Linked DNA regions of Homo sapiens: all the other regions are linked to region 4. Evidence: fine-mapped expression QTL. A gene starts in region 4. Each other region holds a variant in brackets. All regions are shown on one strand. Distances are between the middles of the regions.

Region 1 (4,085 bases), 200 kb after region 4:
ATCAAAATTTGTTTATGTATAATAATATTTCAATGCCTTGAATATAAGTCATAGTCATGCAGTATATCACCTATAGCCAAATAAATTGCTCCACTGAAAAGAAGCATCTTTTAAAAGTATATTCATGATCAGAAATAAATCTAATAAATGCAGACAATGATACCTTACTAATAGCCCCAATGTCAAATTTGGAAAGCAAGAGTAAAACTTAGGACTCTCTACTGATTGGTTTAATATATTGATTTTATATGTAATTCTAAAAACAAAACAAAAATACAATTAACAGAATTAAGTTGATTTTAAATAGGGCTACATTAACCTCATACGTACTCTGACTTAAAAATATATTTATGCTAAAAAATTATTAAAGATATTAATGTTATTAAAGACTATCTCCAGCTGGACACGTTGGCTCACACCTGTAATCCCAGCACTTTGGGAGGCCAAGGCAGGTGGATCACCTGAGGTAGGGAGTTCAAGACCAGCCTGACCAACACGGAGAAACACCGTCTCTACTAAAAATACAAAATTAGCTGGGCGTGGTGGCACATGCCTGTAATCCCAGCTACTTGGGAGGCTGAGGCAGGAGAATCCCTTGAACCCAGGAGGGAGAGTTTGCAGTGAGCCAAGATCGTGCCATTGCACTGCAGCCTGGGCAATAAGAGTGAAATTCCATCTCAAAAAAAAAAAGACTATCTCCAGATCATTTTAGAAAGTAATACTTTCTAAAATAAATGTTTCTAAATAAACTTATATGGAATACAACCTAAATTCTAATAAGCCATATCAACTGCAGCTACATATAGCTAAGTAGTCTAGTGGTCACTACTAGTAGACATGGTTAGCAAGTGAGTGGATGTTAGTTCTATTTGCTACTATAAATACTGGAAGAGAAAATGACTGTTTTTTTTCTTTTTGGAGACAGATTAATGTTTGCAGTGTTTTGTTTTGTTTTGTTTTAAAAACCTGTTGAATTTGAGACATTTGTGAGATATCCAAGTAGGACAGGCATTTGGGATATACGTGACGTAAAGTTCAGGAAAGAGGTCTGGTCTGGAGATAAATTTTGGAGTCATTAAATCTGAAATACCTCTGAAATCTGTCCACATTTCTCCATTTTCACTGTCACAACTATAGCCTAGGTCAACATTATCTTTCATCCAGACCACTCCAAAGGTAGTATAGGTTGAATACTCACTCCTTATCCAAAATTCTTGAGACCAGAATGCTTTGGATTGGGGATTTTTTGGGACTTTGGAATATTTACTTGTATATACATGATGAGATACTTTAGGGATGGGACCCAAGTCTAAACATAATATTCATTTATGTTTCATATATATCTTATACAAATAGCCTGAAGGTAATTTTATTTTTCCCTTGGAGATGCTGAATAAACTATGTGTTGTGCACCTGCATTTTGACTACAAACCATCACATTAGGTCAGGTGTGGAATCTTCCACTTGTGGCATGTTGGCACTCAGAAAACTTCAGATTTTGAAGCATTTCAGATTTTGGATTTTTGCATTAGTGATGCTCAACCAGTATACATGAATGGAAACCCCTATGGTGTGTTCTGCACAACCACACACAGTAGCTCCTACAGTATCTTCCTAAATTAATCTCCCTAAACTTATGCCAGACTCTCTCTTAATTTGTTCTCTGTAATACACTAATGTAATACTGCAGAATGTAAATCTAGCAATGTCCCTTACCTGCTTAATCCATCAAGGGGACCCTTAGGTCAAAATCCTTAACCTTGTATACAAGACCCTGCGTATTTTAGCCATGCTCTAACCTTTCAGGTCACATTTTTTGCCACTCTTTCCCTTGTTCTCTCCATTTCGGATATCTGAATAGACCATGCTTTCTCCTCTCTCAAAGCCTATACAAATCCTAGTCCCTCTGCCTGGAACACTCTTCATTCCACCTAACCCTGGCTAACTGCTATTTATTATTCACACCACAGCTTGGAGATCTTGGGAGAAGAAGGCCGGGCACGGTGGCTCATGTCTGTAATCCCAGCAATCTGGTAGGCCAAGGCAGGCAGATCATTTGAGGCCAGAAGTTTGAGACTGGCCTGGCCAATATGGCAAAAACCCCATCTATACTAAAAATACAAATATTAGCTGGGCGTGGTGGCATGTGCCTTTAACCCCAGCTAGTTGGGAGGCTGAGGCACAAGAATCATCTGAACCTGGGAGACACAGTTTGCAGTGAGCCAAAATCGCACCACTGCACTCCAGCCTGGGCGACTGAGGAAAACTTCGTCTCAAAAAAAAAAAAAAAAAAAAAAGAA[A/C]TCTTGAGGGAAGAATTCTCTAAAATCCCAGACTATGGAGGGGCCCCAGTTCTACTCTCCCATAGTACTCGAACCTTTTGATAACATTTGTCACACCTGAGATGGTTTAATACATATCTTTCCTGACTAACTGAAAGCTTCATAAGGGCAGAGCTAGTTGTCTGTTTTGTTTACTGCTCAAATATTTGTTGTCTGGCAAATCTTGGTTCTAGTTCTGCTAGTACATAATTTTTCCATCTGTAAAATGAGATGTTAGACTTTATTATAATAATCTAAATTCTAATCAAAACTGAAATTCAAATATTACTACCTTTCCTATAGATACATACATGTGAGATCTACATTTCCTTTCGGTATTTATTCCACATACACTCACATTATATTCCATATATACTCACACATGTATGTATACATTACAAATACACACACACACATAAAATGAAAGAGCTAGTACTTTCATAAATTTAAAAAACTCATTGAATGCTTATTGGTAACAGGTATTGTTGTAAATACTTTACTAGTATTAACTCTTTTAATCTTATTCATAACAACCCTATCAAGTAGTTGCCATTATTAGTGTCTATTTTATATGCAGAAACACACATAGAGAAGGATTAAACGGTGTGCTCCAAACTGGAAGTACTGGCTCCAGAATTCACACTATTCACTGCTACACTAGCCTGACATCCTGCCTAGATTGCTTTTTAAGTACAAAAGACCAAAAACAAACAAACAAACAAAAATCAATAACTGATTCAGTATCTACATCCTCAAGCTAATGCTTCTGTATTAGAAGTCAGTCCAAACTATACTAATCCTGTTCAAATACATTTCTCTATATGCTTGCTTTTGATATTCTAACAACTGGATTGTCTACCTTCCCTCTCATCATTCAGTCAAACCCTAATATTTAAGACCTAATTTAACGACAACTCCTCCACATAATTCCCACCCCAACTTTTTTCTGTTAGAGTCTTTCAATCTCTCCGTGTTCCAACTGCATTTACATTTCCTCTTTTTTACTGTAGTTATTTATGTTAAGAGACCAAAATAAACAATAGACATGAGATCACTTCATAAACACTAAAGTTATTTTATAAGATACTTAATACACACCAAGTCAAAAGTATCGTTAACCAAAGAAAGAAAATAGAAAACAATGGACTCAATATCCCTAAGCAGAGTACTTCAAAAGCAAGCACAACCTGGCTCTAACTTGCTGCCAATTTGAATAGAAGTACAAAGGGAAAATTATACCCAAATCATACCACATCAAGTTTTGTTTTAACTAAACAAAGAAGTCATTTTAATCAAACTACATGAAACAAAAAAAAATTTGAAGGATGAAATATGATATTCATTAAAATATTTACTGGTCCAAGCACTTTGGGAGGCCAAGGCAGGCAAATCACTTGAGGTCAGGAGTTCGAGACCTGCCTGGCCAAAATGGCAAAACCCGTCTCTACTAAAAATACAAAAATTAGCCAGGCAAAGTGGTAGGTGCCTGTAATCCCAGCTACTTGGGAGGCTGGGGCAGGAGACTCACTTGAACCCAGGAGGAGGAGGTTGCAGTGAGCAAGATTGTGCCACTGTACTCCAGGCCTGGGAGACAGAGCGAAACTCTGTCACAAAAAAAAAAAAAAAAAATTACTGAGCAATTTGTCATTCACGTACAGAATACTATGCGTTATACTATGTTTTCCATTCTACTTTGTGACCTTTTCACTTTCTAAATTTCAGGTCTCTACTTAAGAGATAGTTGATGACATATGACAATAGTATAGC
Region 2 (4,089 bases), 180 kb after region 4:
TCCTTTCTCTGAACATTCAAAACACTCAGATTAATTACATTAAAAATGTATACATTTAAAAATTATAGATGTGACCAACTCCCTTTTGAGTATTATCACAAATCATACTATTGGACATATGGTTTTGTAACTTTTACTAAAAATAATACCACTGTGAATATTTTCACATACATCTTCTTGTATGCAACTATGAATGTTACTCTAGGGGAGAAATCAGAATATGATCTGCTAGATCAAAGAAGAGCCCATTTCTAATTCTAGTAACTACTGCCCTCAAGAATGGTCATATTAATGTACTCCTATCAATGATGTGAAAGTATCAATATTTACTCATGTCCTCAAATATTTAAAATTTTTGAATTCTAATAGATAAAAAAGCATTTTTTGTTCTTTTAATTTGAATGTCCCTCACACACATTACTAGTAAGATAAACATCTTTGTTTATGTTTATTGCCTATTTGTGTTTCCTCCTCTGTGAACTGCCTATTCATATACTTGCCCATTTTTCTATTAGATTTTCATTTTCTTATTAAATTATATGAGTTTCTTCTATAATGGTATACTGTTGATAGTAAACATTGCTTCTCAACTCCACATTTAGCAAAAGCTAAACAGCCTGTCCCTAGCCAGTTGTTAAACATTTATCAGCACAGCACTTTTTTTTGTTTTTGAGACGAAGTCTCGCTCTGTTGCCAGGCTGGAGTGCAGTGGCACAGTCTCGGCTCACTGCAACCTCTGCCTCCTGGGTTCAAGTGATTCTCCTGCCTCAGCCTCCCAAGTAGCTGGGATTACAGGCACACGCCACCACACCCAGCTAATTTTTGTATTTTTAGTAGAGATGGGGTTTCACTCTGTTGGCCAGGCTGGACTTGACCTCTTGACCTCGTGATCCGCCCACCTCAGCCTCCAAAAGTGCTGGGATTACAGGTGTGAGCCACCGCGCCCAGCCAGCACAGCACTTATTATATATTTTGAATCCTAATCTTTTGGCTGCTACTTTCTCAACAACTTCTTCTTAGCCAATCATTTTCAAGTGTTCTGCAACATTTGACACTGTTGGCCATTCACACTTCAGCTTAGCTTCCTTGGCTTCATTACACCATACTTTTCCTAGATTATTCCACTCAGAAGCAATGCTGATAAATTCCAAACTTAAGAGCTGTAATCTCACCACATCACCTCTATTCCTGCCTATATTTCTAAGTACCTAGTAGATGGTTACCTTTTATGTACCATCATAAGTATAAACACAATAGTTCTAAAAGTATAAAAGAATTAAGTGACACAATTCAAGAATAAAATCACTAAGGAAATTCTAAATGCATAAACAATAGCAAACAATGACACTGTTAACTATAAGGGTAAATTTAAACGGAGACTACATAAAATAATTATGAAATATGTACAGTGTTTAAAAAAAAAAGACAGAGGATAACAATACCAACACAACAGAGGAAAAAGAATAAAGGGAGATCAATTTCAAAGAAGGCAAAGAGAAGGAAGGATAGGGAGATGATTTTCACTGTAGCAGTGTTTATAACAAAAAATTAGAAACCCAAATGTTCATCCACATCACAATTAAAGAGAATTATGCATTAAGATGAAAAAAGATGCTGAGCTTTTAAAAGGTTATTGAATAATATCACTCCCCCCTTTCTCTTTCACACACACACACACACACACACACACACACACACACACACACACACACACACAGTCTTAAGTGACTATTCTACTAAGGCCTTGACCTCAGAGAGCTCTC[A/C]TATCTTCCCTAGTGGGAGAAGCAAATCTATACATAACTGGGATATGTATGTTATAAAGGTAACAAACAGAATGCTATAAAAACACAAAATGAGTACAAAAAAGCAGGAAATGCTTGAGAGGTGACTTCTGAGCTGGGCTTTGAGGAAATGTTCTCTCCACTGAAAGTGAATTACGAAAATGCAGTGTAGATAGAGGAACAAAATAAACAAGGACTATTTATAGTATACTGGAATAGCAAGTAGTCTTGTGGGGGTAGATCATGGAGTAGTGAAGAAAAAAAACTGCAAAGACAGGCAGAAGCCAAACTGGGGAGGGTCTTGAAAACCATGTTAACAAGTTTGGCTTTTATTTAGTAAGTCATATTTACTAAAGGTTACTAGTTACAAAAACTGAAGTAAAAATGAGGCTCAGAGAGTCTAACTTTACCAAGTCACACATCTATCTGGATCTAGGAACATACCTGAATCCAATCCTTCATGCTGACTCCTCAACTTATATAATAGTTCAATTTGATGAGAAATGAGGGGAAGACCTGAACTAAGGCCAATGTTATGGTAGAAACTAAAAGAAATGGCCAGAATCAAAAAGCAACTTGTAGGTATTTATAGGTGCTACTAGATACTGCTTTTTCTTGAATCTAACCCCTGGCTTTGACAGGCTTTCTAGACCAGGATCAATTAATACCACGTATCTCACTTTTTTGGTTATAAAATAAGGAAGTTCATCAGGATAATGTCTATATTCCTTTCAAATTTGACATTCAAATAACTTAGGCATTGCAAAGAGCAGGTACCCAAGATGACTCAGATTTCTAGCTGAGACCCAAATAGATCCTTGGAGAAGAGAGAGGAATAAAGTCCAATTTCGGACACACTGAATTTGAGATACCTCCAGATCTAATAATTAGTTGCAAATTTACGTCTGGGCTTTAGGAGAAAGATCTAGAAGTCATAAGATCACAGACGACATATTAAGCCATGGGAATTAATGAGATTAAGAAAATACTAAATCAACAAAAAAGACAAAATAGTGAACACTAAAGTTTAAATGGCAAGTGGCAAAAGAAAAAGATGGAGAGTCCACACAGGTAAACAAAGAATTAAGCACAGTGTTATACAAATCAAAGAAAAGATGAATTCCCAGAGCTAATCATGTCATATAATGCAGTTTTAGGTTGAGTAAGACAGAAAAGAAGTCAGTGGATTTAGACATAAGGAGGGCAATGATTACAAAGTGTTCAAATCCCACATCTTCACTGAAACTATCTCTGTTTGCATGGTACTACTAACTGTAACATTCCTTTGGCAAATGAATTCAGATATTGTTTAAGGTAATATATTGCCCTATCATTCACACTGTCACAAGTCAAATACAGAGAAACTCCATCATGCTCCTGGCTTAAAAACTCTCACTGGTTTGCTCTCAAAACTGAAGTCCAAACAACTGAAGCCCAAAACTGAAGTCCAAGCATGATATTCATCACACTTCTATTCTGGATCACTCTGCTTTTCCACCCTGCTCTCGTACATTCCTCACCAACAGAGAATATGCCTACTGCCCCAAACTCCCAGCAGAATATACTATTGCCCTTTGGCATATGTTACCCTTCTAAAACCTGTTCTCTTTTTTCAAAGCACACTTCAATGGCAAACTTTTCCATAAAAATTTCCCAAATCTTTTAGTTTAGGGGTCCCCAACCCCCAAGCTGGAGACCGGTACAGGTCCATGGCCTCTTAGGAAACAGGTCACAGAGCAGGAGGAGAGTGGAAGTTGAGAAGCATTACCACCTGAGCTCTGCCTCCTGTCCGATCAGCCCATGCATTAGATTCTCACAGGAGCTCAAACCCTATTGTGAACTGTGCATGTGAGGGGATCTAGGCTGTGCGCTCCTTATGAGAATCTAATGCCTGATGATCTGAGGTGGAACAGTTTCATCCCAAAACCATATCCCATGTCCCCACCTCAGGTAGCAGAAAAACTGTCTTCCACAAAACCAGTCCCTAGCGTCAAAAGTTTGGGGACCACTGTGCTAGGTAATAATTAATCAACTTCTCTCTGACTCTGTTCATGTTGCTATTATGATATTTCTTTCTATATCGTATTATGATTAACTGTTTGCCTTCTTACTTTTTAAAACTTAAACTCCTTCACGCCAGGAACCATCTCACCACTGCACTCCAGCCTGGGCGATAGAGGGAGACTCTGTCTCACAAAACAAAACGAAAAACATTGGATTCAACTTTGGCCGAGTGCAGTGGCTCACACCTGTAATCCCAGCACTTTGGGAGGCTGAGACAGGTGGATCGCTTGAGCCCAGGAGTTAG
Region 3 (4,089 bases), 23 kb before region 4:
AGAAAGAAGTAGACATGGGAGACTTTTCATTTTGTTCTGCACTAAGAAAAATTCCTCTGTCTTGGGATCCTGTTGATCTGTGACCTTACCCCCAACCCTGTGCTCTCTGAAACATGTGCTGTGTCCACTCAGGGTTAAATGGATTAAGGGCGGTGCAAGATGTGCTTTGTTAAACAGATGCTTGAAGGCAGCATGCTCGTTAAGAGTCATCACCAATCCCTAATCTCAAGTAATCAGGGACACAAACACTGCGGAAGGCCGCAGGGTCCTCTGCCTAGGAAAACCAGAGACCTTTGTTCACTTGTTTATCTGCTGACCTTCCCTCCACTATTGTCCCATGACCCTGCCAAATCCCCCTCTGTGAGAAACACCCAAGAATTATCAATAAAAAAATAAATAAATAAATAAAAAAAAAAAAAAAAAATTTTGCACTTAAAGTTTGAGTAGAAACGCATACGTGGGAGCCAATGACTGGATGTGCCAACTGACATTTTCGACCTTAGCCTATATGTAAATTTACAGATCTCTAAGTCTCAACCTTGGGTGCTTGAGCCCCTGGCAGGCTAACCTCTTTCCTCCCAACTCTGAGTCCAATTTAAAGAAGCAAAAGGCCGGGCGCAATGGCTCACGCCTGTAATCCTAGCACTTTGGGAGGCCGAGGCAGGCAGATCACCTGAGGTCAGGAGTTCGAAACTAGCCTGGCCAACGTGGTAAAACCCCGTCTCTATTAAAAATACAAAAAATTAGCTGGGCATGGTGGTGCACGCCTGTAATCCCAGCTAGTTGGGAGGCTGAGGCAGGAGAACTGCTTGAACCAGGGAGGTGGAGGTTGCAGTGAGCCGAGATTGTGTCATTGCCCTCCAGCTCGGGCGACAAAGAGAGACTCTGTCTCAAAAACAAATAAACAAATAAATAAAATAAAATAAAGGAGTAACACCCAGCCTCCTCAGGAAGCCCAAGTCATCTCAGGTGCCTCTGCACAGCCCAGCTCAGCAAGGCACACTAGCTCCCAACAGATGCAGCCCAGCACAACCAGGAGCTCACACCACCTCTAAGGTGATGGATGGTCTCCACTGGACACCACCCAGGGTTCTGCTCTCTCCCCACACCCATCTCTCCAACAGACTTTGTATTCCTGCTCACAGCACACAGAAGTCCTTTGGGTGAAGTCCCCACAGCTATTTGCCTGGCCTGGGAACCATGAAGCCAGTATTTAGGTTTTCTTCTAACTCTGCTTCTCTCTGCCTTTGTAAGTTTGAACAAGTCACTGCTATCAAGCAGTTTCCAAGGTCCCTTCAAACTCAAACAATCTACGAGGATCAATTCTCCTAAGAAGGGGTCTAAGGCCAGTCATGGTATCTCACGCCTGTAATCCCAGCACTTTGGAAGGCCGAGGCAGGTGCATCACTTGAGATCAGGAGTTCAAGACCAGCCTGGCCAACATGATAAAACTGTGTCTCTACTAAAAATAAAAAAATTAGCCAGGCATGGTGGCATGTGCCTGTAATCCCAGCTACTTGGGAGGCTGAGGCAGGAGAATCGCTTGAACCCGGGAGGCAGAGGTTGCAGTGAGCCGAGACCATGCCATTGCACTCTGGCCTGGGAAACAAGAGCAAAACTCCACCTCAAAAAAAGGAAAGAGGAAAGGACAGGACAGGACAGGAAAAAAACAAAACAAAACAAACGAGAGAGAGAGAGAAAGGGAGGAGGAAGAGCGGAGGGGAGGGGATGGGACGGGATGGGAAGGGAAGGGAAGGGAAGGGAAGAGAAGGGAAGGGAAGGGTCTACAGAGAGGTATTTGCCCCCTGAAGCTGCCTTTCTGTCTAAACTCTTGAGCCTTCAGGC[C/T]GGAGGTTTTCCAAGGCACAGCAACAATATCTTTCATACCCTGCTCTTCTGAAATGTCATCTTGCCCCTCTTCCATCAAGAGGAAGACTCTGTTTCCCCTCCTCTTGGATCTGGTGGGCGCTGTCACTGCTCTGACCATACAATGTAGCAAACATGATGTTGTGACAATTCTAGTCATACCCCTGAAATGACCCAGAAGCTTCCGTTTCTGACTTGTCAGAGTCTGAGATGCCATGTAAGAAGCCCAGCTACTTTGCTGGATAGAGAAGCCACATGGAGCAGCCACTCCAAGGCACCACCTTGGATGTCCATTTGCCATCAGGCTGCAACTACATGAGAAACCTCAAGCAAGAACCACTCAGCTGAGCCCAGTCAACCCATAGAACCAGAAGAGAAAATATTAAATTGTGATTTTCAACCTCTACATGTTTTCTGTGATAAAACATACATAAAATCTACCCTTTTAACCATTTGTAAGTGTACACTTTTATTTAGTTATTATTATTATTTGTTTTTTGAGATGGAGTCTCACTCTGTTGCCCAGGCTGGAGTGCAGTGGTGCCATCTTAGCTCACTGCAACCTCTGCCTCCTGGGTTCAAGCGATTCACCTGCCTTGGCATCCTGAGTAGCTGGGATTACAGGCGCCTGCCACCATACCCTGCTAAATTTTTTTTTTTGTATTTTTAGTAGAGACGGGCTCTCACCATGTTGGCAAGGCTGGTCCCGAACTCCTGACCCCAGGAGACCTGCCCACCTCGGCCTCCCAAAGTGCTGGGATTACAGGCATGAGCCACCACACCCGGCCTGTAAGTGTACACTTTAGTGGCATTAAATACATTCACATTGTTGTGTAACCATCACCACTATCCACCTCTAAAACTTTTTCATCTTTCCAAACTAAAACTCTGCACCCATAAAACACTTAGTCCTCATTCATCTTCTCTCCAGCCCCTGCAACCACCACTCTACCTTCTGTCTTCATGAATTTGTCTACTCTAAGTACCTCATATAAATGGAATCATACAGTATGTGTCCTCTTGTGTCTGGCTTATTTCACATAGCATTATGTCTTCAAGGCCCATCCATACAGAAGCTTACATCAATATTTCATTCCTTTTTAAGGCTGAATAATATTCCATTGCATGGACATGCCCCATTTTGTTTATCCATTCATCTGCTGATGAAAACCTCAACATTTTGGAGTAGCTGCTCTGCAGCAACAGATCACTGGAGCAGCAGGCAATGCAGCCATGGAAAGCAGAGCTGGGTTCCCACGGCAGATGTCAGGACCTGGAGAGTCCACCCAAAACACAGGACACCAGGAACTAACCCTCAGAGTAGGTGAAGTTGGTGACTGACCAGGAATCCGGGTTGGAGCTCCCAACATCACTTGTCACAGTGGGCTGGGTGTCTCCTCAGGTCTCTAGGCTGGGAGCAACTCCAGCACAGGGGATGATAGGATCTTATTCATGCCTGGGTTCTCTGCCCTGGCATAGGCTGAGGGCCTGGAGTCCAATCAATGTTTGGTAAATGTACCTGACACTTCAGCCAGGTTCTGACTCATCCCAGAGTTTTTTACATGCTCCTTGCAAGGCAAGAGCCATGCCAAGGAAAATGCGGGAGACTAACTGCTTCTGGCTGGGAAAGAAAGGGAGAGGAAGCAGCAAAAGGACATTCTGTCAGAGAAAAATTCACTTCCAGACAGCTCAGGATCTCCATCAAAGCGCCCCGTCCCCAGAATCAGGCAGGTAGCCACAGCTGGCAGAGACTTTACCATCTGAAGGTTAGGAAGGTATCTAGGGCATCAAGCTGAGCCAACAAGACAAGGCCAGGGGCAGGGGCAGGGTCAGAGGGGCTTGGCCCTTGGTCATGGCACAGGCCATGGAAAGTAGGGAAGGGAACTTGAACTATGAGCTCAATTGCATACCCCAGCCCTGGAAGCATTGGGGCATGACCTTCCTTCACTGCAGGAGGACTCAGATTTGTTGCACTATGTCCCCAAGCCTCTCACCCATAACAAATTTACCCAGGAAACACCCATCTATAGTCCAACCCATTCTCCCTGTTGCGATGTTCCACTTGGCCACATAACTAGGGTGCCTGACACAAGTCAGGACACACCAGAGCATAGATGTTAATTCCAGGTTTAAGAAGAAGTTGTTCTTGATTGGCTTAGAGTGAATGCCACCCAGGTAACAAACCTGCAAATGTACCCCCCTAGATCTAAAATGATCTAAAAGTTG
Region 4 (4,089 bases):
TGGACTTACTTTTTGAATGGAAGTCACAGTCACAACACTTGCCTATCAATTATTTATTTATTTATTTATTTATTTATTTATTTATTTATTTAGACAGAGTCTTGCTGTGTCGCCCAGGATGGAGTGCAGTGGTGTAATCTCGGCTCACTGCAACCTCCGCCTCCCAGGTTCAAACGATTCTTCCGCCTCAACCTCCCAAGTAGCTGGGAATTACAGGTTCCCGCCACCTGGCCCAGCTAGCTTTTGTATTTTTAATAGAGACGGGGTTTCATCAGGTTGGCCAGGCTGGTCTCGAACTCCTGACCTCAAGTGATCTGCCCGCCCCGGCCTCCCAAAATGCTGGGATTATAGGCATGAACCCCGTGCCCTGCCTTAATGATGTTGTGCCCTGCCTTAATGATGTTTTGAGACCACAATAAAACCTAACTGATTCATACCAATGGGGAACTGTCAAACTGCATCAGTGGAGAGAAGTGAATTACATCCTTTTTAACATAAACTCTTTTATTTCCAGTAGAATTCAAATAAAATAAAATCTTTATTTCCAAATGGTTCAATACTTGGACCTGTTTTTTAAGGGGTTGTTCAGAATCTGATCTACTACATTTGTTACAACCACATTTATTGTTTGTATGGAAACAGGAATGGCTAAAGTTTTGAGAAGTGTGTTCTTCCTAAAAACGTAAAACATTCAACATCCCCCAGCAACCATGCTCACACAGTTCGCTCCTTGGTAGAGCTTTTTCTTCCCAGATCATGTGGAAGAAAACCCCAGCTCAGGCTGCTCCCGGCTGCTCTGGTTCTGAGTGAGTGTGCAGAGGTTTGCAATATCAGCCCAGGTCAAGCCCTGAAAAATCTCTCCAGACTCCAGACTTGATCTGTCCAGACCCATCCGAGAATTAACAGGCTCCCCATCGTGCCCACAGAAGCAAGACTGTCATGGAAACACTGATTCAACCATAATAACTACTGACAGAAAAACCACACAAATGAACTAAACAATTCTTCCACCCAATCAGAGTCCAGGGGAGTCCATAGCCTCAGGATTAAAATAAGTAGGGCTGTTTTTATTATGTGGTCCAGCTCGTTTGAGCCTCTCCCATTGCCTTGTTTTCACAGCTCCCTTTTATGAGAAAGAAAGTGGGGGTGGGGGAGTTGGGAGGGAGACTAGAGCTATGCAGACGGGAATGCCAGGCTGGGAATACCAACAAACAGTGTGCTGCATGTCAGGCAAATTAAAACTTCTAGCCTGGAGGAGGCTGTAATCGTGTTTGCGGTTAGTCTGAAAACAAGCTACACTGAACTTCTATCTCCCAGGAAAACAGTCGAGTGTGGACTGAAGTCAAAAATGAGTATTTTTAGCAAGCATTCTCTCTCTTCCGTTTATTTTCTTCCTTCTTCTGTCTTTAGATATTAGAAACGCTAATTACATGAAGTATCATTATTATTCGAAGAAAGCACAGTTAGAAGGGTTAAAAATAAAAAGATGCCAAACCAACAGAAGCAGTACAATCCTAAGGAGGAATATATTTTAATTTTTCCCTGTACCCACGAGGTTCAGTTTGTGGGTCCAAGGGACCCAACCCCAATACCCAGTGAATGGTCATACCTGCAGGAAATATTTGGGCCAGTGTGGTGGCCCCCGCGGCTGTGGCCCCGTGGCCTGGCTCCTTGCCTTCCAGGGCAGGAGGGGACTCCGGGCTGCAGGCACAGGCTAAGGTCCGAGCTGAGGTACCAGGGAGCGGGGAGGGACAACAGCCCAAATAACAGCAGTCAGAAGGAGGAGGGAGTCCGGGAGCGGGAGAGAGACACAGAGACCCCGAGGGAGGCGTGAGGGGCGCAGAGCTGGTGGCCCGGGTCCGAGAGGTCGAGGGGCCGCGCGCGGGTGAGAACGAGCCCCGGCCCCCGCCCTCGGAACTGAGTCGATATTCCTTTTTTTGCTGTTTGAGTTTTCTCTTTAGAGTCGGACCCCGGTCCCAGCAGCAGTCTCAGAACAGAGGGGAGCCGAGGAGTCCCTGCCGGGAGGCCATCCCTCTGCGGGCCCCAGGGCGCCCCTGGGGGCGGCCAGGGCGGGCGCGGGGAGATGGGGAGGCGCCGAGCGGCCCTGGAGATGCCCGCGTCCCGGGGCGCCCGCAAACTTTCCCAGACACGGCGGGAGGCCCCACCCTGGAGAGGGGGGGTCCCAGGCCTCCCGTCTCTGTCCCCTGGGGCTGGTCACTCACCGGCAGCGCGGTTGGGGCTCCGATTCTGGCCGCAGCCAGCCACACCAGGAGGCGGAGGAAGAGGAGGGGGAGGAGGAGGGGGAGGAGGAGGGGGAGGAAGACCCGGGGCCGCCGAGTGGAGGGCGGGGAGGGGCGGCCGCGGCGCAGTGACTCCTCCCGCTCCCGCCCCCGCCCCCGCCCCTCCTCCCCTGCTGAGCCTCCCTTCTCTCTTCACGCCTTCTTTCTCACCCCGAATCCCCCAAAGTTTTTCTGGTGTCCGACGCTCCGTTCTCTTCCCTCCAGCGCATCTTCTGTCCCCGAGTCTCCAGCCTCCCAGAGGAGGGGAGAGCGCTCCCTCCTGCAAAAGTCGGGGGGCGGGGGCGGTAAGTCTATGAGTTACCTTTCGATGCCCTCTTGAAGCAGATAGCTTGGACCCGTGGAAGGTCTGAAGCCACCCAGCACCCCCAGACCTTGTCCTCACCTCTGGGTGGGGATGATGGAGGGCCTTTGCGGTCGTGCTTTCTAAGTTGCTTCATGGAGTTTTGTTTTGTTTTGTACCCCCCGCCTCACCCCACCCCCACCCCCCACCCCCCACCTTGTAATTAGGAGAACTAAAGAATTATATTTGAAAGGTAAAGATGAAGCCCCACCTTCCTGGGCGAATCAATCATAGCAGGAGGAAGGACACAAGATAGTTTAGTGAGGGCCAAGCTGTGGGGGTGGGGAGGAGGTAAACGCGTCCAGATGCCTCCTCTTTGCTGCCTCAAGAGTGCATGGAGAGGGAGAAGGGGCGTTGTCCTCCCAGGAGAGGCTGCAGGGTGTCTCGTAGTCCCTATTCCATCGCCTGCTGGCAAATGACTCCAGGCAAGTCACTTGGCATCTCAGCCTCTTCCTCAAGGGGGGCTGCCTCACTGGGAGCCAGTCAGAATGAAGGCACCCTCCCCACCCCTTTACCCTGGAGAGACACCAAAACCCAGGACGAGAGACTGAGCTGAGTTTGAACAGGCTCAGAGGGGAGAGAAGAGGGCATTTTAGGCCCCATGGCATGGTGCTTTGGAGGTTGGCAAGACTGGAAGGCTTAGGGTAAGTGGGCAATGTTTAGATGGGAAGGTGGAGCTGGGCATGAAGCAGAATACAGGAAATCTCTGAAAGTTTTCAAGCGAAGGTGTAGAGTAGGCACTCAGTGAATCCTTGAGGATTCAAAATGGCAAATAAGAAATATTGGTTTAACAGTCCTGTAGGATGGACCACCTAGGAAGAAAGGGGTTGCATCCAAAGAGAGGGGTTAGGAGGCCCCGGTGAGCATCTCAACTTGAAGTACTATGCTGGAAGGTGGAAAGGCAATGAATTATTTTTTAATCGTAAATTTCCTTGAGGAGCTGGGCTAACTCATAGGCAGTGCACCCAGGGTTGGTGAAAATCAGTGGACACTTCTTTGTATTTGCACAGCAGTGTAATTCTTTTTTAAATGTTCTGTCAGGTGTAGCCTTGTTTTTGACCTTGGAGTTCGCTGGTGAAATGGAAATATAGTCAGTACCCTATTTGACCTCCAGCCAGTGTTAAGAACCTGCCCTCGGGGCTTTGAGGAAGGAAACTGACGTTCCAGGAGGGCACTCCTCGAGCGCCTGAAATCACACAGCCAGGATCTATTTAGGATACTTTTATTCTCAGATAAAACTACTAATTGTGCTTATGCTTAATATATCCTAAACACAGAAAAAGGCACTGGTTTCTCCTCAGCTTCTCATTTCCTCCAGCTACCTTCCAGTAATGGTTAAGAGTTGAGGAAGGGCAACTTGCCTAGGGAAGAGGAGAGCCTAGGGAATAGGAAGTCAACTGACTGGCTGGTTAACTTGTCAGAGATTGTTCCATGGAAACAGACAGGTAC
Region 5 (4,089 bases), 780 kb before region 4:
CTTCCAGTTGATCGAATCAGCTACTGAGGCTTGTACATTTGTCACGTAGTTCTCTTGCCATGGTTTTGAGCTCCATCAGGTCCTTTAAGGACTTCTCTGCATTGGTTATTCTAGTTAGCCATTCGTCTAATTTTTTTCAAGGTTTTCAACTTCTTTGCCATGGGTTTGAACTTCCTCCTTTAGCTCGGAGTAGTTTGATCATCTGAAGACTTCTTCTCTCATCTTGTCAAAGTCATTCTCCGTCCAGCTTTGCTCCATTGCTGGTGAGGAGCTGTGTTCCTTTGGAGGAGGAGAGGTGCTCTGATTTTTAGAGTTTCCAGTTTTTCTGCTCTGTTTTTTCCCCATCTTTGTGGTTTTATCTACCTTTGGTCTTTGATGATGGTGACATATAGATGGGGTTTTGGTGTGGATGTCCTTTCTGTTTGTTAGTTTTCCTTCTAACAGTCAGGACCCTCAGCTGCAGGTCTGTTGGAGTTTGCTGGAGGTCCACTCCAGATCCTGTTTGCCTGGGTATCAGCAGCAGAGGCTGCAGAACAACAGATATTGGTGAACAACAAATGCTGCTGCCTGATCGTTCCTCTGGAAGTTTTGTCTCAGAGGAGTACCCGGCCGTGTGAGGTGTCAGTCTGGGGCACTGAGAGTAAACAGATCTCTCAAGTTCATACACATAGAAGTGGTGATTGCAGGAATTGAACACAGTTTGTCTGATTCCTGATCCTGTGCTCCAAGGTAATATACCACATGCCTCTTGGGTAGAATATTTCCTCAACCTGTGATATCAAGAACTTCATTCTTTTCACAAGTCATTTTGCTCATGAGTAACAGTGAATTTAACTTCAGGCAGGTGACAAGCGTAAGCTGTTATTTGCCCCTATTTTACTGCGCAAAGACGTAGAGAATAACAATATATGATGTGGTAATTGCCCTTATGGAACTTTTAATCAGTTGAGGAAATCTTATTAATTAATTATATCATTGTAGCCTAAACGTGGAAAATTACCTATTGTGTTTCAGTGTCACTTTTAAAACATGAAGGAAGTGACCTTCCATGGAGCTCAGCCACAATAACAGGTTTTCCAAAATTCCAAACTGGGTTCAGTGAACTTCAAAAATGGCCACAGAATGGAGAACCAAGCATATATTCCCCTCTTTTTCCTTTCAGTGCTATTTAACTATTTAAAAAAACTTACTAAAATATTTTTACCATAATTGGATATGAATTTAAAATTTATAGACAGAATGGAGTGAAAGTGAAAATGTATTGTTTTAGAGGCTTCTGGTGGCTTGGAAGTTGCTGCTAGTTTCTCTCCATGGGCCTGAAAGATGGTCTCAGAAGATTGGCACCACATGCCTGCTTCTATGCTGCTACACTGCTTTTTCCTAACCAACAGTCTGTGAATCGTTCCTAGCCAAGGTTCCCAAGCTACAGATTGCTTTAGCTGCTGCTTGTGGCTGTTCCTTTCTCCATCTAAGCTTACACACAGGACCAGGATGTGGGGAAAAACACTTAGACACTGTTGATGGGGATGTAAATTCGTTCAACCTCCATAGAAAACAGTGTGGAGATTTCTCAAATAACTAAAAATAGAACATTCAACCCAGCAATCCTACTACTGAGTACCTACCAAAGGAAAAAAAATTATATAAAAAATACATCTGCACTCATATGTTCATCACAGCACTATTTGTAATAGCAAAGTCATGGAACCAACCTAAGTTTCCATCAATGGTTGACTGGATAAAGAAAATGTGGTAGATATACACCATGGAATACTACGCAGCCATGAAAAGAATGAATCATGTTCTTTGCAGCATGAAGCTGTAGGCAATTATCCTAAGGGAACTAATTCAAAAACAGAAAATCAAAATTAAATACCTCACGCAGTCACTTATAAGTGGGAGCTAAACAACGAGTACACATGGACATACAGAGGAGAATAATAGACCTTGGGGACTCCAACAGTGGGGAGAATGGAAGAAGGGGTTGAGGGTTGAAAAATCACCTATCAAGTGCAATGTTCACTATTTGGGTAATGGGTATACTACAGGACTGATCCCCACCAGTATGCAATATACTCATGTAACAAACATGCACATGTACATCCTGAATTTAAAATAAAATTTAAAAATACAAAAAAGAATACCTATAGCCAC[C/T]GAGTGCTCTCTAGTTCTGCTGCCACCAAACCTCCTCATTTTATGCTTGGACAATTGTGATAGCTTTTAAGTTGTTCTTCCCTTTCCCTACAACACCTCCCTCCAGTTTTTCTCGGGTGCTTCCATCACATAAATTGCGTTCAAACAATTTTTTAACTTGCCATTCTCCAGCATAAATGTTTTCAGTGGTTCCTCATTACCTTTGGAATGAAATTCCCAACTCTTTGACATGGCATGTAACTCTCATGTCTCCTCTCTCTGAACTTTTACTCCACGACAGTGGTTCTTAACTGGGGACAATTTTGCTTCTCAGGGGACATTTGGTTGTCATACCTCCAAGAGGAGGTAAAGTAACTGGCATCTAGTTGGTAGGGGCAAAAGATGCTGCTAAACATCCTACAATGCCCCCCCCCCACCTCAACAGAGAACTACACAGACTGGGAGGTCAGTAGAGCAGAGGTTGACAAACCCTGTTTGAGACAAATGGGACTGAGAGTGTTTCCTAGAATGTACCCCGCACATACCAACACCATACATCTTCAGCTGTCCAACTTAATGCTTAAATGTTACTACTACCTTTATTCCTATCAATTCTCCAAAGCCTTCCTGGTGAAATGCTCCCTCGCTCCACTGAATTTTTATTGCATATACTTGTTTCACCCTTGTGTTACTTTTCCTAATCTTTTCTTTCCCCACTGTTAAATATTTTTGAAATATAAAGCATCTATCTTCTCCCCCTCATATCCCTTTGCAGTACTTATCACAGGGCTACACATATAATAGGTACTGGAAAATATTTGTTGTTTGACTGGACACAGAAAAACAGTTCATTTATTTTGACTGTAGGCTCCCTTTATAGCCATGTCTGTCCATTTGCTATATAATGCGATCACTGCTACTGCAGTCACTGAATTCCTAATATGTAGACTCAAGCACAGTTCCTTTGTTTTAAGATACTGACAGTTTTACTAGTTCTAAACTCAAGGAAGCGTAATGGAATCCTGGTGATCAGGTATGGCCCTGTCTCCATTTGTCACACCTCTTGGCCTGCTGTTATCTTAAATGAGTGGCCATGTGGAACAAATCACTAACGTGAAGGACAAGGCAAAATTACCAGAAAAGAAAGCATGAAATGGTAAATGTTTTATTTAATGTAGAATGATATGGAAATGTTTCATCTGATGCCAGCCTGCTGTTTTAAACAACCTCAGCTTCATTATTCAGAACCCTAGCATTAATGTATCTTTGCAGTGGAAAGCTTGCTAAGCAGGCTAAGAGAACACATTAGTGGAATCTTGTCTTTCCTGGTTGCTGCCCCTCATGCAAATAAATGGTTCAATTTAAAGTAATTTACCAAAGATGCATAGAGCACCTAGTATATAAAGTGAACACATGTACGGTGCCTGGCATATATACAATGGAAGATGTAAAGATGCCTACAGAGAATCCACAATCCAGTAGAAATATAAGGTAAAACAAGATGAATGGTAGTAAAATAGAGTTCTCTGAGCTCTCCAGGGGTAGAGTAACTAGGTTTAAAGGAAGCAGGTGAGTGTCACTTTTAAGCTTCTTCATAAAGGAGGAATAGGAATGTTTTGTTTTTAAATTTCCTTTTTTTTTAAATTTTGTATTGCTGCCATAATAAATTATCACAAACTTAGTGGTTTCAAATATCACACATGTGTAACTTTACAATTCTATAGGTTAGAAGTCTGACACAAGTCTCAGTTTGTTAAAATAAAACCGTCACTGGGGCTATACTGCTTTCTGGATATTATAAGAATCTGTTTCCTTGCCTTTTCCAGCTTGCAAGCTGCCATAGTCATTGGCTCAAAGCCCTTCTTCCATCTTCAAAGCCAGTAGTGGTAGATTGAGACCATCTCATGCCTCATCTTTCTGACCACTCTTCTTTCTTTTTTTTCCACTTTTAAGGAC
Region 6 (4,089 bases), 51 kb before region 4:
AAATCAATTTGGGTAAAAATGAAAGCAGTCTTATTTCAAAGAGCAGGGAGCAAACCTAAGGAAGAAGTGGTATCAGCTGAGAATGCAAAGAAGTTCAGGTATATTCATGGATGACAGATCTTTAGAGATTAATTAGGGAATCTCAGCTATATTAGAAATATTTTTAACATTTGAAGTTGATGCGTTAATCTCAACCATGGATATCAACGAATTTTCTCTTAGTGCCGCCATCCACAACAAATTCCTAGCCTAGCATGGTATTTCGTATGATATTTAAAAAATGTTCAACAGTTAAACTTATCTGGTAGAAATAGGTGCAAAAGGAAACAAATAAACCAGCTGTTTAGCTAAATGTTCCATCTCCTACCCCAAAGCACAGCCTCAGCTGACAAATTGCCATCTGTCTCTACCTGGTTTCAACCCAAGGAGGAAGGTAAGAATATTTAAGCTATTTCCCATGAAAATAAACTTGGGGTGTTGAATATTTACTTGAATTTTTGTCTGGAAGCCGATCTATCTTCCATACCACTGCCTGGTAGGCACTCTCATATTTTGCTGACCCCACAGTGACTTGAATGACAGGTTCAGATTCAAGTTCCTGTAAACTCCCCAGACATGCTCGGCGGTTCATTTTAGCTTTCAGAGACTTCTGCCTCTGGAGGTTCATGGTCCAAAGGGCCTTGATCCACTGCGATGGGACAGGAAAGTGTATCCTTATATTGTCACAGGACCTTAAGGAACCAGCATAGGATGACCTCTGCGCCAATGAGGCCATGTTGACAAAAGCCTGAAGTTCCACGTATGCTCCCTGGACAACCACTACAGACTTCAAGGAAAAGGGAAGATTATCCCCATTATACAAAGTCTTGAAACGCATCAGCTCAAACCGGCAGGCATCCAGAGGTACAAACTTAATGATTCTTGATTGCTCAAATTCTTGTACATTCACACACTTATGAAAATGGTAGTCAAGAATATCAATCCCCTTTTTTTCTGAGTCCTTCTCATAATAGGATTCATCTCGCTTCGGCAACTCAAGGTCATTCAAGGTTAAAAAGCATTCCAGGTTCCCATTCACAAAGCAGAGGCAATAAATTTGAGTTATCACAGCACTTTCAACAAATTTTCCTTCTTTTGTGACTTTACCCCAAAAGTTGTCCACAATTTCCAAGGAAATTTCTTGCTCCTCGTAGTTCTTTTTTGGTTTTGAAACAGCTGGCAACTTCATCAGCTCCTCCTCCACAGTAGTCAGAAAGTCAAGGAAGTCATGGTACGATGTGGACCCCAACTTCAGCATCTGCTCTATGTCAGGTTCATGAACTACTTCTGTCTTAGAATGGTATTTCCTTTTTTCTGTGTAAGACACATGTTCAATCTTCACAGTGTGGATTTTTCCTGCTACACTGAAGTTCTCAACCTTGGGTTCAGAAAGCCTACAATATGGATCAAGCTGTATCTCTTTAAATGGTTTTTCTAATCCCTGTTCATAATACATCTGCAAAATTCCTCCAGGCAAAACTTTCAGAAAAATTGGTCCCCATTGCCGGGAAGACATCATATTCTTCTTCTCAGGAATTCTCAGCATGAAAGACCATCC[G/A]GATTTTGGCTGACTCCTGAAGAGTGTGTGGGGGACAAAGGAAGAGGCATTTTCTTCAGCACATAGACAGTGCATAGACAAACTTCTAAGTGAGTCTTGGTTCTCAGCTGACTGGAGATGTTCAAGCTTCTCACAGATATAGTTGAGTGAACACTTATTTAGGCTTTTTTGGTCAATAGGCATCTCCTTGTTTCTTGATGAGAACATCTTTTTGCTTCCTGGTGGGTCAAGGGTGAAATGGGAATCACTGCCTTCATCTTTCCAAAATGGACTTGAAAAAGCACAGTCCTCTCGAAAATACTGAAACTGGGGGAGATCATCACTTTGGAATCCTAGGCTTTCAGCCTGTTGAGGATTAACTTCATCTGGAAGACCTACTTTGGGAGTTGGATGTGTACATGAGTGGTCACTGGGTAACAAGGCATGGGATAAACATGTTGGTCTGGTAGGCAGTAAGGAAGATTCTCCTCCTGATATTGCGAGTGGGCTGTCTGAAGATGATTCTGGAATAGGATAAAGCACATGAGTCCCTGCTTTGGGGATGCCAGGAAAACCTGGGAAGTCTTTGGTAGGTGTAGAAAGAGGAGAGTTACTTGGAGGTCCTGGACTGAAATAAAAATCTACAATGGGGGAGGAGAGAGGAGTGCTGCTGGTGGAGGAAGATCCACTGGGAAATTCCCTGAGGCCAGGAAGGTTCAGCTTCAGTCCATTTGGTCTACAGACACCTTGATTCTCCAGAGGAAAATTCTTTGACTTTTGAGAAGATTGAACAGCAGGATCATCATCAAAGGTGACCCATTTGCCTGGATTTGTGGAGCACATCTTTGGGATCAGATTGTGGTCTTGTCAAGAAATCAAATAGGTTGACTCTGTTAAAAAAATAAAATAAAGAGAAAATAGGTATATAAAATGAAGGGGGGAATCATTACTAAATGTCTTTACTTCTGATAAATGCTTAAAAATTATAATTCTGTTGGTGGCTAAGTGGATTAAAAAAAAAACATGATCCAACTGTATGCTGTCTATAAGGTACTCACTTTAGATTTAAAGACAGACATATGCTGAAAGTGAAAGGATGAAAAAACATATTCCATGCAAATGTTATCCAAGAGAGAGCAGGAGTAGCCATGCTTAAGCAAAATAAACTTTAAGTCAAAAACTATCATAGGAGACAAAGAAGGACATAATATAATGATAAAAGAGTCAATTCACTAGGAAGACGCAACAATTATAAATATATATTAACCCAGCTGGGAATGGTGGGTCACAACTGTAATCCCAGCACTTTGGGAGGCCGAGGCAAGCAGGTCACCTGAGGTCAGCAGTTCGAGAGCAGTCTGGCCAACATAGCAAAACCCTGTCTCTACAAAAAAATACAAAAATTAGCCAAGCATGGTGGTGGGCACCTGTAATCCCAGCTACTCAGGTAGCTGAGTCAGGAGAATCTCTTGAACCTGGGAGGCAGAGGTTGCAGTGAGCTGAGATAGTGCCATTGCACTCCAGCCTGGGTGACAGAGTGAAACTCCATCTGAAAATATATATATATTTATATATCCAACATCAGAGCACCCAAATATATGAAGCAAACATTAACAGAACTGAAGAGAGAAATAGATAGCCACCCACTAATAATTGGAGATTTCAACACCATACTTTCAACAATACACAGAACATCCAGACAGAAGACCACTAAAGAAACAATAGACTTGAACACTATAAACTCAACTAAACTGCCATACATATACAGAACATTCCACCTAACAGCAGCAGAACACATATTCTTCTCAAGCACACACAGAACATTTGCCAAAGCAGATCACGTTAGGTTACAAAACAAATCTTAACAAATGTGAGAAGATTGAAATCACACAAACATTTTTTCTAACCACAATGGAATAAAACTAGAAATTAATAATAGAAGGAAAACTAAAAAATTCACAAATATTTGAAAATTAACATACTCTTGAACAACCAATGGATCAAAGGAGAAATAAAAAAGGAAATTAGAAAATATCTTGAGACAAATGAAAATGAAAACACAGCACACCAAAACAGTACTCACAGGGAACTTTATAGCCACAAATGCGCCACTGCACTCCAGCCTGGGCAACACAGTGAGACTCCGTCTCAAAAAAAAAAAGGAAGAAAGAGGGCTGGGTGCAGTGGCTCACATCTATAATCCCAGCACTTTGGGAGGCTGAGGAGAGCAGATCACCTGAGGTCAGGAGTTCGAGACCAGCCTGGCCAACATGGAGAAACCCCATCTCTACTAAAAATACAAAAAATTAGCTGGGCATGGTGGCACACACTTGTAATCCCAGCTACTCAGGAGGCTGAGGCAGGAAAATCGCTTGAGCCCGGGAGGCAGAGGTTGCAGTGAACAGAGACTGTGTCATTACTCTCCAGCCTGGGCAAGGAGAACGAAACTTTGTCTCAAACAAAAAAAAAAAAGTGGTGTTGAAAAAACTTGATATCCACATGCAAAAGAGTGA

Direction of the effects. Positions count from the first base shown, and alleles are read on the strand shown. Sizes are in standard deviations (SD) of each study's normalised expression. Not every link is listed here.
With allele C in place of T in region 3, the expression in prefrontal cortex of the gene that starts at base 2,285 in region 4 is lower (small effect, 0.31 SD a copy in BrainSeq).
For the expression in tibial artery of the gene that starts at base 2,285 in region 4, G is the high allele of the variant in region 6 and A is the other (small effect, 0.18 SD a copy in GTEx).

What was found. PIP is the estimated chance that this variant, and not a neighbour inherited with it, causes the effect. A credible set is the group of variants that fine-mapping cannot tell apart.
Region 1: its variant is the best candidate, but not a certain one, in a credible set for the expression of STON1 in whole blood (TOPMed, PIP 0.75).
Region 2: its variant is the best candidate, but not a certain one, in a credible set for the expression of STON1 in amygdala (GTEx, PIP 0.68).
Region 3: its variant is the best candidate, but not a certain one, in a credible set for the expression of STON1 in prefrontal cortex (BrainSeq, PIP 0.51).
Region 5: its variant is the best candidate, but not a certain one, in a credible set for the expression of STON1 in left ventricle (GTEx, PIP 0.59).
Region 6: its variant is the best candidate, but not a certain one, in a credible set for the expression of STON1 in tibial artery (GTEx, PIP 0.80).

The regions. Positions count from the first base shown.
Region 1 is chr2:48,324,057-48,328,141 of GRCh38, reverse strand. The region is part of intron 1 of FOXN2 (forkhead box N2); the gene reads right to left. Among named protein-coding and RNA genes, the nearest start is that of FOXN2, 11 kb to the right of the region's middle. The variant A/C (reference allele first, on the strand shown) is at 2,301.
Region 2 is chr2:48,351,181-48,355,269 of GRCh38, reverse strand. The region is part of intron 3 of FOXN2 (forkhead box N2); the gene reads right to left. Among named protein-coding and RNA genes, the nearest start is that of FOXN2, 39 kb to the right of the region's middle. RefSeq lists a silencer at 1,984-2,033. The variant A/C (reference allele first, on the strand shown) is at 1,764.
Region 3 is chr2:48,551,043-48,555,131 of GRCh38, reverse strand. The region is part of intron 1 of STON1-GTF2A1L (STON1-GTF2A1L readthrough); the gene reads right to left. All of the region lies in intron 1 of STON1 (stonin 1), which reads right to left. Among named protein-coding and RNA genes, the nearest start is that of STON1, 23 kb to the right of the region's middle. The variant C/T (reference allele first, on the strand shown) is at 1,846.
Region 4 is chr2:48,528,350-48,532,438 of GRCh38, reverse strand. STON1 (stonin 1) reads right to left here and starts at 2,285. Exons shown (of 4, transcript NM_006873.4): 1 at 2,223-2,285. It overlaps STON1-GTF2A1L (STON1-GTF2A1L readthrough), which reads right to left and starts at 2,514. Exons shown (of 11, transcript NM_001198593.2): 1 at 2,451-2,514. RefSeq lists a silencer at 1,954-2,153 and an enhancer at 1,745-2,292.
Region 5 is chr2:49,308,722-49,312,810 of GRCh38, reverse strand. All of the region lies in intron 2 of LOC105374595 (a long non-coding RNA gene), which reads right to left. Among named protein-coding and RNA genes, the nearest start is that of FSHR, 160 kb to the right of the region's middle. The variant C/T (reference allele first, on the strand shown) is at 2,155.
Region 6 is chr2:48,578,964-48,583,052 of GRCh38, reverse strand. It overlaps STON1-GTF2A1L (STON1-GTF2A1L readthrough), which reads right to left. Exons shown (of 11, transcript NM_001198593.2): 2 at 490-2,466. The coding sequence starts at 2,419. STON1 (stonin 1) reads right to left here. Exons shown (of 4, transcript NM_006873.4): 2 at 490-2,466. The coding sequence starts at 2,419. Among named protein-coding and RNA genes, the nearest start is that of GTF2A1L, 37 kb to the left of the region's middle. The variant G/A (reference allele first, on the strand shown) is at 1,598.